Linked DNA regions of Homo sapiens. The protein of the gene in region 2 binds, or shares a complex with, the protein of the main gene of each other region. Each region holds a gene or a part of one and is shown on either strand. Other genes may lie near its edges.

The links.
Region 1: the proteins of SNTG1 (region 2) and TRPV3 are in contact, whole or in part, in a crystal structure (PDB 7QQN), measured with the Homo sapiens proteins. Residues at the interface, in NP_001274742.1 of Homo sapiens: Arg62, Gly66, Gly67, Phe68, Gly69, Leu70, Ser71, Ile72, Lys73, Gly74, His78, Ser85, Lys86, His118, Glu119, Val122, Arg126; in NP_659505.1 of Homo sapiens: Pro786, Glu787, Thr788, Ser789, Val790.

The regions. Positions count from the first base shown.
Region 1 is NC_000017.11:3,554,794-3,561,665, reverse strand, and holds the start of TRPV3 (transient receptor potential cation channel subfamily V member 3), read left to right. Parts: upstream 1-3,853; 5' UTR 3,854-3,990; intron 3,991-6,813; 5' UTR 6,814-6,815; coding exon 6,816-6,872. UniProt on the Homo sapiens protein: Non-selective calcium permeant cation channel. It is activated by innocuous (warm) temperatures and shows an increased response at noxious temperatures greater than 39 degrees Celsius. Activation exhibits an outward rectification.
Region 2 is NC_000008.11:49,907,024-49,914,428, forward strand, and holds the start of SNTG1 (gamma-1-syntrophin), read left to right. Parts: upstream 1-4,383; 5' UTR 4,384-5,208; intron 5,209-7,405. UniProt on the Homo sapiens protein: Adapter protein that binds to and probably organizes the subcellular localization of a variety of proteins. May link various receptors to the actin cytoskeleton and the dystrophin glycoprotein complex.

The sequences.
Region 1 (6,872 bases), on a different chromosome or scaffold from region 2:
GGGTTTTGACAAATGTATGACCTGCGTTTATCATTATAGTATCACACAGAGGAATTTTATTGCCTAAAAATCCTCCATCCTCCACCTATTAATCCGTCCCTCTCTCCAGCTCCTGGCAACACCGACCTTTTTTTTTTTTTGCGACGGAGTCTCGCTCTGTCACCCAGGCTGGAGTGCAGTGGTGTGATCTTGGCTCACTGCAAGCTCCATCTCCCAGGTTCATGCCATTCTCCTGCCTCAGCCTCCCGAGTAGCTGGGACTACAGGCACCCGCCACCACGCCTGGCTAATTTTTTGTATTTTTAGTAGAGACGGGGTTTCACTGTGTTAGCCAGGATGGTCTCGATCTCCTGACCTCGCGGTCCGCCCGCCTCGGCCTCCCAACGTGCTGAGATTACAGGCGTGAGCCACCGCGCCCGGCCAACACTGACCCTTTTTTTTTTTTTTTTTTTCTGAGACGGAGTTTTGCTCTGTCGCCCAGGCTGAAGTGCAGTGGTGCAATCACGGCTCACTGCAGCCTCGACCTCCTGGGCTCAAAGATCCTCCCACCTCAGCCTCCTGAGTAGCTGCGACTATAGGTGAGAGCCACCACGCCTGGCTCATTTTTGTATTTTTTGTAGGGATGGGGTTTCGTCATGTTGCCCAGGCCAGGTCTTGAGCTCCTGGCCTCAAGCAATCCACCTGCCTTGGCCTCCTCAAATACTGGGATTACAGATGTGAGCCACCGTGCCTGGCCAGCCACTGATCTTTTACTGCCTTTTCCAGCATGTCATGTAGTTGGCATCATCAATACAATACATAGCCTTTTCAGATTGATTTATTGTACTTAGTATTATGCATTAGAGTTTCCTCCAGGTCTTTTCGTGGCATGAGAGCTCATTTCTTTTATTGGAGGATAACATTCCATTCTCTTGGATGTAGCACTCTTTTTTTTTTTTTTTTTTTTTTTTTTTTTTGAGACGGAGTCTTGCTCTGTCGCCCAGCCTGGAGTGCAGCGGTACAACCTCGGCTCACTGCAAGCTCCGCCTCCCAGGTTCACGCCATTCTCCTGCCTCAGCCTCCCGAGTAGCTGGGACTACAGGCACCCACCACCATGCCCAGCAAATTTTTTTGTATTTTTTGTAGAGATGGGGTTTCGTCATGTTGCCCAGGCCAGGTCTTGAACTGCTGGCCTCAAGCAATCCACCTGCCTTCGCCTCCCAAAGTGCTGGGATTACAGGCGTGAGCCACCACGCCTGGCCGGATGTACCACTCTTTATCCATTCACCTACTGAAGGACATTTTGGTTGCTTCCAAGTTTTGGCAATTATAAGTAAAGTTGCTATAAATATCTATGGGCAATTTTTGTGTGGGCATAAGTTTTCAGCTTCTTTGAATAAACACCAAAGAGTGTGATTGCTGGATTGAATGGTAAGAGTATGTTTAGTTTTGTAAGAAACCACCAAAGTGTCTTTCAAAGTGGCTGCACCGTTTTACATTCCCACCAGTGATGGCCGAGAGTTCCTGTTGCTCCATGTCCTCACCAGCATTTGCTGGTGCTGTCAACATTTTGGATTTGGGCCATTCTAAAGAGTATGAAGTGGTCATTTTATCTTTTATCTTTTTTTCTGTTTCTCTCTGTGTGTGTGTGTGTGTTTAATTTAAACTTAATAGCATTGACCAATGTGTTGTATGCATTTACACTATAGCATGTTATATTTTTGTTCTGATCATATTCCTTTTCACTTTTCCATTCTTTTTCTTTTTTCTTTCTTTCTTTTTTTTTTTTTTTTTTGGAAACGGAGTCTCGCTCTGTTGCCCAGGCTGTACAGTGGTGCAGTCTCGGCTCACTGCAACCTCTGCCTCCTAGGTTCAAGCAATTCTCCTGCCTCAGCCTCCCGAATAGCTGGGACTACAGTGTGCAGCACCTCACCCCGCTAATTTTGTATTTTTAGTAGAGACGGGGTTTCACCATGTTGTGGCCTCTTCCCTCCTTCCAAGTCCAGGCAGATGCTCCCTCTTTCCCGAACTCATCCCCTACACCCCATCACAGGGACTTCCTCCCGCCTTGGGGGTCTCAGCCCATTTTGTCCTGATGACCCACATGGTGGGTCATGGTTCCTGCCTGAGCCTGTGTCCCCTGTGGCCCACGAGGGTGGACACGGCCTTCTCCAGTTCTGAATCCCTCGTTGTCCACCTGCGCCCTTGCCACGGCCTCTCCCGTGGGCTCTCACCATGTGCTGGGTTAAATGGGGTTGAATATAGACCATCTAAGGGGCTGAAGCTGCTGCTTCTGTGTGTTTGGGGTGGGATTAGGATGGGCTCGGGCTTCCTAAGTAGTGACTGTGACTCCACTGGGTGACCTGGCTCCTGCTGCCTCTCATAGCAGAGCGGGGGTCCCCTTCTTCCTTGCTGGGCACAGGGCACACCTCTGGGTGGGAGACAGGGGCCTTTTTCACCAGCTCCCACCTGCCCTCTGAGAAAAGTTATGAACACGAGCAAAATGGAAGCACTGACATTTGGCAGCAGCTTCCTCCCCAGGCGTCTGAGCCGCCAGAGGCAAACAGGGAGGGCGCGGGGCTGGGTCGGGAGAGGGTGAGTAAGCTAGTGGCCGGAGGCCGTGCTCAACCCCAGATCGGGCTTTTCCGGTCGAGTTTCAGGCACAGTCATGAGATTTCAGATTGTGAGTGGGAACTTCAGGACCCCCTGACTTCAACGGCAGAAGCGGTCTCCTGCTTCACCCACACCCTCAAGTCTGGTCTGCCCCTTACCGGCCATAGGTCCTGCTCTCCCGTGGCCTAGAAGCCTCACCTGCCTCCTGCCTCCTCCCCAGGCCAGGCAGGTTGTGATGATGAGGGATTGAGAGGCTCACAGCTGGGGATTTCCCTGCCCATCAGGCGCCAGCTGCGGCCGCGTCAGCAGAGACTTCCTGCTCTGTCCCAGCTGTGTCTTGTCCACATCTCGCCCCGGGGAGCAGGTGTGCAGTTCCTGAGTGACGCGAGACACACACGGCCATCCTGACTCACTCCACCCACTTCACAGCTGCAGCCTGGGCCAGGAGAGAGGGCACCGATTCCTTCTATGACGCCCTGGCCTTGGAGAAGGGCAACCTGGGCAGTTGCTGGGAGAATACATTGAGATGACAAAAGCAATCATAGCTAAGAGCTGACATTGTTTATTGAGTTCTTGCCGTGCCCTGGGCCTTGTTCTGGCCCTTTCTACTTGTACTTGTTGAAGCCCCACGATAACCTTGCAAAGTGGGTTTATGAAGCACGTTTCACAGATGAGGAGACTGAGGCTCGGAGAAATGACCTGCTAAGGTCATTCAGCCAGGAAGGGGTGAGGCTGACACTAAGGGCCATGATGCGTGACTGCTGGTGGACAGCATTAAATGGGGACTTCCGTCCCCGAGAGACCTGATCCCAGGAACCGACTTTTGAGAACAAGTGCCGAGTCTTGGGGCTGGCCACCCTGAGGTCAACCAGGCTAGGCCTGGGCTGCGGTCTTCCCTCCCAGGGGACAGAGCAGAGCGCTTGACTCTTCACTAGGCCCTCCCACCTCTGTGATCTCTTTGGCTCTTCACGGCTCCCTTGGAAAGTAGATGTTATCATTCCCATTTCCTAGTTGGAAAAATAGGCCTGAGATGGGCAGTCCCTGCCCAGCATGGAATGCCAGAGAGGGAGGAGTTGGACCCACAACTTCGATCTTGGCACCTGCGGCCTCCCCTGCCTTTTCTCCGGTGGGGATGAGGCTGCTGTGTGGGTGTGGGGGTGACTCACACGGGCCACGTGGGTGGGCGGGTGCTGCAGCTGTGGCTGGTGGGCGTGGCCTGCCTGGCGCCGAGGGCAGGTGGCTCAGCCAGTTCTGCCTCTGACGCCTCATTCCAGCCATCCCTCTGCCTGCAATGAGAGCTTCCCGCCGCCTCAGCCACAGTCCCACCCGGGGGCCTTGGGCCCCAGACATGCGGTGATCTCAGGGCAAGGGTTGCCACGACCACCCAGAACCTCACCAGGTGAGTCTTCTGTGCACAAGGCAGCTGGTGATCTCCAAGGCCCCTGGGGAGCCCAGAGCGTGGCCCTCAGAGGTCCTCTGGGCCATGTCTGCCCTTGGCCAATAGGCCTTGGGAGGAGGGTTGGAAGGAGCTTGGGCCCCAGCCAGGGGCCCACTCTTGGCTGTAGGGAGGCACTCTTGGCTGCACTCTTGGCTGTAGGGATGTGTGAGAATATAGGTCCTTACAGACTCAGGAACATTCCCCTGAGGTTTGGGAATCCTGGGGAGGGACATCTCAATCTCACCACTGCTGGGGGCAGAGGAGAGGCTCCTGCCTCCCGAGGCTGACCCAGGGAGGTGGCTTTCTGGGGCAGGATTGTGATGGGAGTTCAGGATGGGAGGAGGTGGCCCCACCGTGGGAGACAGACGGGGCCCAGGCATCTCACAGGTGCTGAGTCAGCAGCTGTGGCTCCGCGGCCTGGTCTGTCGCCCGGGAAAGGCCATTTCAATCAGTGTCAGGGATTGGGAGAGAGAGGGAGGGCCAGGGCAACAAGAGAGTCCAGCAGGTGAGAACGTGGGGTTTACGGGGTGACTCAGGGAGCTAATGATAGCTGCTGCGGCCCTAGTCCAGAGTTCCCTGAGCCTCTCCTGCCCCAGAGGCCCAGGGCAGGCCACATTCTCGGGCCCAGAGAAGAGAGAGAGCAACCAGCTCTCAGGGCCACAGAGTCCTTGGGGACCATTCAGCCCACTTCTCAGAAAGGAAACCAGAGGCCCTGGGAGGGGCAAGAGACGTGCCCTTCTTCTGTCTCCTTCACGCTCGGTGCATCCCAGCCTTTTAGTCCACCAAAGGCCACGTGGGGATGGGGAAAGCCATAGAGGCTGCCCATCCTCATCAGGCCGTGACTGGACACGGGAGGGCCGGGTGCCCAGGAGTCCCTCTCTGTGGGCTACTCCACCTGCCTGGCCTCAAGGTTGCCTACGCTCCAGGGCCAAAGCTCTCCCTCGCCGATGCCTCCTCCATCCTGAGCCTGCTCCCTTTGAGTTGGAGGGCGGGGGACTCTCTCCAGCCTGATGACACCTGGCTCCGGAAACTTCCTCCAGGAAGCTTTCCTATTGGGGTAGGATCACCAGTGGCCCCAGCTCCACCCCACCCAGCTGGGTTCTTCTTACAGAAATCCGTCTTCCTGCCCCCACCTATGTGTCGCCAGGTGAGTCCCCTGAGGATGATTCAAGCTGAGAGTGGCACCCCCTGACCACACAGTCACCACCTGTCCACACAGCCCTTTCCCCGCCCATGTCATCCCTCTGTGGCCAGCTGGCCCCCTTCCCCGTCCCTATGGCCCCTGCAGCAGCCTCCTCCTGGCCCCTGGCTTCTGGTCTCCCCCACCCCCCAACGCAGCCCGCGCTCTCCTATGTAACCCAGAGCCTCTGCACCCAACTCCCAGCTGCCCCCAGGGGTCAGCCATAGCTCCTTTTTTATGTTTAATAAAAACTTTATTTTTTTTTTTTTTCATTTTTTTTGAGACGGAGTCTCGCTCTGTCGCCCAGGCTGGAGTGCAGTGGCACAATCTCGGCTCAATCCAACCTCTGCCTCCTGGATTCAAGTGATTCTCCTGCCTCAGCCTCCCGACTAGCTGGGACTACAGGCATGTACCACCATGCCCGGCTAATTTTTTGTATTTTAGTAGAGACGGGGTTTCACCATGTTGCCCAGGCTGGTCTTGAACTCCTGAGCTCAGGCAATCTGCCCACCTTGGCCTCCCAAAGTGCTGGGATTACAGGTGTGAGCCACTGTGCCTGCCTGAAGCCACAGCTCTTATGCGGTGTTCGAGGACTATACAGGGCCCAGCCTGCCCGCATGGCTTTCGCTGGCAGGGTCCCCATGAGCTCCCCAGGTTCTCTGGCCACAGCAGCTCCCCCCACTCCTGCCACTCCTGACCCTCCCAGGCTCTGTCCTCTGCCCGGCTTGTCCTTCCTCCACACAGCAGCCTGTACGGTCTATCCTGGTCTTGTTGGAAGATGTATCAGTCCCCCTTCCCCAATCCCCACACCCCTCGGAGCTCAGCACGGTGCCCAGCCCACATTGAGCATCAGTAAAGCAGGTCTGGACTGGGGGGTCGGCCTCCTCTGCCTGGGGCAAGGGGACTCAGCTGCTCCCTGCAGGTGAGAGGGGAATCTAATGGACAGGCAGCCATAAGCTGGTTACACACAGCTTTGGGTGGGCGGGGGAGATGATCGGTGTGTTGGCTGCAGAGACCACCTGGACACTGAGGAATCCAAAACACCTGAGGAGCTTAAGGCTGTGTTACTAGGAGCATAACATCTAGAGCAAAGGAGGTGATAATCTTGCTCTGTGGAGGTCAAAACTCTTGGAGAGCTGCTCATCACAAAATCGGAGAGGGACCTCAGGAAAGCAGAGCTAGTGCTTAGGAGTCCGCCTGGGACTGGTCAGCTGGAGAGGGTGTCATGAGAGAGGACAGGGGCATGGTGGTCTCTACCGGGACACCCTGCTGGACTCTCCACTAGTTCAGGGGTCCACCTGGGGACTGGTTGGCTGGGGAGGGTGTCATGAGAGAGGACAGGGGCATGGTGGTCTCTACTGGGACACCCTGCTGGGCTCTCCTAGGACCATAGCATTTGGGGGTGCTAGAGCAGGGAGCTGGGGAAGCTTTGGGGACAGCTTCTCTGTCCTTGAAGAAGGATTGGTGAACTGGGAAGGGAGGAGTGAGCTTCCAGTTCCAGGTAGTGTGAACGGGAGCTGGATGCAGCCACATGGGGCCCCTAAACTCCCTGAAGCTCCCCCTGTCCCCCCGGCCTGAGCATCTGCCCTGTGGTTGTATTCCAGCCATGAAAGCCCACCCCAAGGAGATGGTGCCTCTCATGGGCAAGAGAGTTGCTGCCCCC
Region 2 (7,405 bases):
GAAAGGGGTATAGCTACTAGGCAATTAAAAACTATTTTATACCCTAGGCCAAATTGGCAGCATATCCTATGAGGATTTTTTTTCCCAGTGGTTAGCAACTTGCTTCTATGAATGATTTGTTGAGCTGTGAAGGGATTTCCATAGCAGTGAAATCTTGTGTGTGGAATTTCCACATATATGTATACAAATTTTATCTACACCACACTTCAAATACAGCCATATTTACTGCTTGATGTTAATGAACAATAAAAATTCTCTGCAGCACTGTTCCTGTCAGAGAGGCATGGAGAGATCTTCTAGAGAGTGTGCCATCTGTCACATATGGACAAAACCTTGATCCAGGTGCTATTTATTAACTCTACTAAATAAGTTGCATTATTTTCATTTTAAAGTGAATAGACTCAAAAAGATTAAGTAATTTATCCAAGTGGCAGAAAGTAGCACTCTTTGTCAAGTAAGTCGGTATTCAACTTCAGAATTTTTGTGAATAGAAAAAACAGAAATACAGAAGAAAATGCTTAGGGAACTACTCTCTAAAATGAAATGTCTCTCCTAGGCAGTTGCAGTTAACAGTATCCAATTTTCTAAGCTTCTCTGGCAGCCACTTGTTACCTCCCGCAAAAGAAAAATTAAACTAATCTGAGGGACAGATTTTTGTACCTCAGTCATTTGAGTACAAATTTCCATCTACTTTTGCCTGCTACTGAGGTTAACTAAGTTCAACTTATACAAGTGCAAACACCCATGAAGTCCTCAAGATTTATCTGACCACAATTCAGCAAAATAGAACTCCTTAGCTGAGTAGAGGTATGATTGAGTAAGGGATCTTATATTCAAAGGGGGCAAAAGAAAATACAACTCAGTAACATTTCATCTGAAAACCCATAGAAGGAGATTTTAAAATAGGATCACTGTTCCAATTCAGAAATAATTGGTAATAGATATGTAATATTTATTTGTACTTGGACACAATTTAAAAAAGCAGCTCAAAATTATACTGAAGATGTTAAAACTGTTAATTGAAAAGGGTTCAGATATGGGTATAGGCCTATTACAGCTCTATATCTATTAGGAAACATGAAGTAAACACAGAAATAATTAGAAATATATATTAACAAAAAATAGAACCTTTAAATGGAACCACCAGTTTTTCAATTGAGGTCTAAAAATTGTGAGCAAATGATACTCCACAGATGATAGGTGCTACTACCTATTTTTGTAGAAATATACAAGATATACAAAGTTTTTACATATGTTGATTTTTGCATATGACAGTTTATGAGGCTGGCAAAAATTATGATTATTATCACCATTTTACATATAGTAATGAGATGTGAAAATAGGAGGCTTCCGGAAGTGACACAGCCAACGTTTCACATAGTGTATAATGACGATTCATTTAGATCATATTGTATGGCGGTTTCAACTTACATTTCAAACTTCCTGACCCAAAGGACTTCCAATTGTTTACAAAATGTTCCACAAACTATTATGTTTTCTAAGATTTTTGCACTGTGTAGAGTGGACTAGAGGGGAATTATATCCTAGTTTTATAGAGAGGGATTGAATGAGCCAGTTTAGAATTCACAGTAATGATGCTAGGTTACTACATTTTCTTGTGCATATAATGCTTCATGTATTGTTTTGATTATTTATATTCACATTTTACTATATTTACATTTTTAAAATCATGGCAACTTAAATTAAGAATTTTTTTAAAAAATCATTTAAAATAGACTTTGGAAAATCTGCTCCCGGGGTGAAATTTCTTAACATAATTCTTTAATTCACCTCAGCTTATTTGTCCCTTGGTTTTTTTATGTTGTACTTCATTTATATTCATTTGTAGCATCAGATGTTAGGCGGTATTTAATTTTCATCATCTTGATTTCCATAACTGGTTATACAACTTGATGAGAAAAAATATAAAGTGGATTTTGCTTCTTGAAGAAAAGACATCAAACTATCATAATCATACTGGGACTGTCAGTTCACATTAATCAACTGTTTCTGTTTTCTTTTACTGGCAGGACAGAGGGAGGGGGATAGAAAGATTGAGAGAGACCGCATAAAACTCAATCAGTGCTCAGGAAGAAAAGAATCTGTTCTTCTAGGTCTGAATAATCAAGTGCATATGTTTTTAATTAGCAACATCTTTGTACTCTGTGCTTCATTTAAATGCTCTTATTTGGTGTGTTGATTTTCTGTGGTTATTCATGTTTCCGTATGTCCTGATAAAATAATTTAAACAATCAATTAAATCAACCTTAGTAAGCATAGAATTAAATACAGCAGAGAAAAGCTTCTTTGCTGACAAGGACGGATAGCCCCTGATTAGCATAACCCTCACACGGGGGGTTTGTTTTAATCATCTAACAAAAAGGGGGCATTTTCTGAAACACACACGACAGGTATTGTTTCTGCAGAAAAAAGAAGCACGTGTTTCACCACATTTGTCTAAGGAAAAGGGAAACTTCATTTACCATAACCTTAAGCAACGTTTTCACATGGACTGAAAAGCAAAAGACCCCCTTAAAAATTAGCCTCAAGCAGCAGATACTCTCTTTTTAGGTTTGTGTGTCTCCGTGAGGTCAGATGGATTCCCCAAACACGGTTTTAGAGAGAATCACAACCTTTAATAGATCCTCTGTTAAAAAAGACTGTTAGAGAAAGTTGACCAAGGGCTTCGTTCCACGGCGACCGTTTCCTGCGTGTGCAGCTCCACACAGCGACCGCGGCCTGCAATGTGCGGAGCACAGCGCGGCCCCTTCCAGCCGGAGCTCGCGAGCCGCGGTGGCGGCTGGTGGCCACCCCAGGGAAATAAAGCCGTTGCTGCTGCAGCAAAATGGCTCAAAGTCCAACCAAAGTCTGGCCTTTTCCTGTGAGTAAATACGCGGCCTGTTTGGTTTTCCGTCCCGAGTGATTCCCGGCTCAGTAACGTTTCTCCTCCAGGGAGCCCACTGGAACTCCACTGGCTGTGCCGCCTCCTCGCCCGTCCCCCGCGCGCGCCGCAGGCCGGTGCTTGGAGAGCGCAATGTCCCCGGGAGGGAAGATCCCCTACCTGGAATGGATGGTTCCAGACCAGCGGGAACGCGCTCTAATCCTTGATGGAAGCAAGCGTGGGAGGAAAGCACAACGTCTAGGACTTCCCTGTAGTGTCAGAACAGGAAGAAGAACCTGAGAAGTCGCCGGGGAAGGGAGGCCAGGAGCAGGCGTCCGGCCCCTTCCCACAGCCCGGGAGAAATTAGTGTTGCGCCCCGCCCCTCCCGGACCCCCGTCCCCACCACACACACCAGCGCCCCTCACCAGTCTTTCTCGAATTTCCTCTCATGTCTATCAATAACCTCCTTGTGCAGAAATCTACACTGCACAAGTTAGGAGTCTGCAAGGGCGGGCGGTGTTACAGTCTCGCTCTTTCCATTTTCCCCTTTTACTCCACATAGTTTCAAAGGTCCACATGGCCCTGGTTTTGACCAGTTTTCCAACAGTTTCAACGTTATGTATTTCAACTTCCCGTCTCAGTTCACTGGCGTCTGCACCCGTTGCCGAGTGTGGGTGGCTGAGCCCTGGGTGACAGCACTCGGGACCACGCACCCATACCCTTCTTTATGCTCGTTGTCAGCCAGTTGCCAAGAGCGGGAGTGAAGAGCCTGCAAGGCCCGGGAGAGCGCGGATTCCGGAGTAGGGAGGCGAGGGGGCAGCGTGGGAGACCAGAGGGAAAATGGGCTGAAAAGCCAACAAAAAAAACAACGTAAATTGGGCTTTGCTCTGGCTTTACAAAGGCAGAGATTGTCGAGCCCTCTGACTGTCTTTGTGCCTTCTTTATCCCGTCCTTTGTGAAATAAGCCGTTTTCTGCCCCCACTGCAGGAGCCTAGGCTGTGGGCGACTCGCTAGCACTGCCCTGGGCCTCCAAGCTGCCTGCTCGCTGAGCTCAGCGCTGACACTCACAGGAGCTGCGTTCGCCGGATCCTCTGAGAGGCTCTGCAACGATCCCGATCCAATTCAGCAGCGTTTTAAAAGGTAGCCGAGTGCAGATGCTTTTTCCTGTCTTTTTCATTCTTTCATTCTCTGTCTTTTAAAATTTTAACAATAACCTATCGTTTCCGCGTGGAGGGTCTAAGAATCTTCACTGGGTTTAATTTAGGAATTTCAAATTGGGTTTCTCAAAATTTGAATGTGGTCCCCTTAATTGGTAATCAAGATTGCGGAGTTTTCCAAAATATTCCTTTTCATCTTATGTAATTAAAGATCCACGAGCTTTCCAAAGAAGCTCTGGATTTTCCACGGTACAAATCTATATATTTTTTCTCTCTCTTCCTCTCTCTCTCTCTCTGCCTCTCTCGTGCGTGTATGTGCGCGCCCCTGTGCGTGCGTTTTCTTTCATTTCTGGCATTAGGAAACTCGTGCAGGGCCACTGAAAAGTCAGGGGAGGCTCAGATGTTATTTCCCAGGGATTCCTGTTTTTCCAGAAACGTTGTCACCAAATAAGTATGAGACTGTTAATTTGGAGAAACAATTAGCCCCTACAAAAAAAAAAAAGAAAGAAAAAAGAAAAAAAAAAGAACCGGAGGGGAGAAGGCTAGGGCGGAAGACAAGGAAGCTGCTGCTTGGATTCGCTGGTGGAGGAAAGTGCGACCTGGACCTGCGCTTAGGGGCTCCCGTCCCCTTACTTCAGCACCAGAGGGGATGGACAGCGTCTCCGGACTGAGCTGCAGCCACAGGGACGGAACTACGCTGCCGCCGCCGCTGTCCTTGCCGCCACTGTCGTCGCCACGGGCAGCTGGGCTACTTGCTCCTCGCAGCTAAAAGGCGGTGCCTCCTATTACCCCCTCGCCTCCCGGCCCCCTTCCTTAATGGATGAAAAGTACCCCTCCCTCTACACCTGCTGTACCTAAGGACAGGACTCTGAGGAGTACTCTTGCTCCACAGATTAAACTCTCAGCAGCAACTTCAAGAATCATTTTTCTATAGGGGTCTGGGAGGAATTCTGGAGGAGAGTAAAGTCGAAGTTCTTAGAAGCTCTGAGAAATCATGGGCCGTGCGGTAGGGGTTGAAATGCTCAAAGGTCCACACTTCTTGAAATAAACAGAATGGTCTTGAGTGGATTGCAACTGTTTTGGAAATAGCTTTGTGAAAAGAGGGTGGAGAGCTACTCAAAATTCTACGTTAGAGAGACTGAAAAGACATCTAATTTCATTGCTCGGCAGGTAAGTGATAGCGCTATTATTTTTGTTTTTTAAAATTCTAATGACTTGTCTTATGGTTTAACAGAAAGATCATAAGCAGTGTAATTTTTTCTGGGGTTAACGAGGAGACAAGCAATTTTGTTTTAAAATAATTGTTTCTGGATCATTGTGTGACAAGAAGAATCAAAATAACATACATGTTGCCTTACATAATTACAGTAAACTTTTAGCTGGCCATTTTTCTTATTGCTTATCTAATATCTTTTTGGATCTGGCATATCTTGTTTATTTTTTCCCAAAACTAATGCAATCGTTTGGCAAGATAATTTTGTTGTCTTATGTATGCCATAAAAAGTGATCCTGTCTGTGTTACATAGTATGCAAGACTAAAAAAGTTAAAATAGAGAGGGTTTAACCATGCCCTCTAACATATTTTATATTGTTATAATATACTAAACTATGCATGGGAACAAATACATGTATACATATACACCAGATTTCTCACTCCATGCCAACCTCCAAGTATACCTACACCTGTAGGATCTTACGTAAGGAGACACTCATATTTTTACTTAGCACCCTCTTTCCAGCCTTTGAAAGCTCAAGATTGCTTTCTCAAACCTGATCTGCCAGAAAGCAGAAAATGAGAAGCTTTAGTGTGCCTCTTTAGGAGAGCTGGATTTCAAAATCATTCTAACTTATTAGTTCTGCAAAATACATTTGTCAGTGAAATCCAGAAAGTGATAGGGACCAGTAGGTTCCCGAAAAACCATAAACTTTAAAATGCTAATTAAATCTGTTTTCTGTTGATTCTTATTTCTAGTTTTCCCCTGGAGCTTTAAAATTACAATCTTTCACAGTGACCTTGATAAGCATTCTGCTTTAATAAAAAGGGTTCACTGGGCAAAAGCAGTTACACAAATTTGTAACCCGTGCCTGACATTTCACTAAGAATCCGATCAATTCCAATGAGTACATTCAGTTCAGTGAAGAGTTTTGACTTGCAAGGATGGAATTTTACAGTCATGTAAATACATGTGATGAGATATTCATAATCAACTCTGTGAAAAGAGTCTACCCCTTTGAAAAATTACAGGAGATCTTTAGGTTTTACTTTTAATTTCACTGGTTGTGTGTAACGATAGTAAAATGGCTCTAATGCATATCTATACGTACCTTCCTTCTCAATTTTAACACAAAAATCATTGGAGGCCGTTACAGTGGCATTCATTGGTGGGGTGATGTCCTCTTGTTTTATGTTGGCTGAGTGTAGCAATTACTCTGAGGAAAAATCATTCTTAACTGTCACCACTTACCATGAACCTGCTTGCTTAGCAGAAAAGGAGCAGAGGCATCTATGTCACTGAGCTCCTTGGGGGCTCCGTTGCCCTATATAGGTCAAGAATGATTATCTGAGGAGGAGAAACATGTATTATTGATTTGGATTCCTTCCCAGAAAACCTACAATGTGCTCTTAACACAATCCTTTTTTTCCTCAGTGGGAGAGGTATGGAAGTGAAATTATCACATGGAAGACTTAATCATATTTTAAGAGAGTTACAGCATGTCTTTAGACAATTATTTTGGCTGTCAATTAATTAACACAGAGGGACTCCCCTAGTCAGTAGGGCATAAAATGTAAGCAGAGAATGTGTTTCAAGAAGCACTCCTCTGTGTATATGGCCGCAGTTCCCTCCTCAGGGGCAGAGGGGGCAGGCTTTCTCTATGTGTAACTGAAATCTCACAAAGTGAAAGTTACCTTTGCCTAATCCCTTAGGAGATTTAGTCACAGAAATATGTAACTCTAATTCACCCCAAACTCATGAAACTGCATGGAAACCCTTGTCAATCCTTATCTGTAGGGAAATGTCCTTACATTGAGATAGAGTTTGGGAAAGCAACTTAATGCCTACCAATGCTAATCTCTAATTGTAAAGTAGATAGTCAAACAAACAAACAAAAAGGGGGTAGTGGAAACCAATCTTCATTATTGCACAGAATCACTTGTCTTTAAAGAAAAATCAACATTTTATTAAGGGATATCTGTACCCCACTAAGGGCATCTATTTGCTTTGATAGTTATTTTGTTTTGCTAAAGAAAAAGGATGCATGAGGTCTTGGGAGTACCAAACACACTATCTTTTCCCCATTAAAAAAAAAAAAAAAGTTTTATTGGATAAGACTAAGTGTTGTTGGCTGTTGCTTACATTTGAGACTC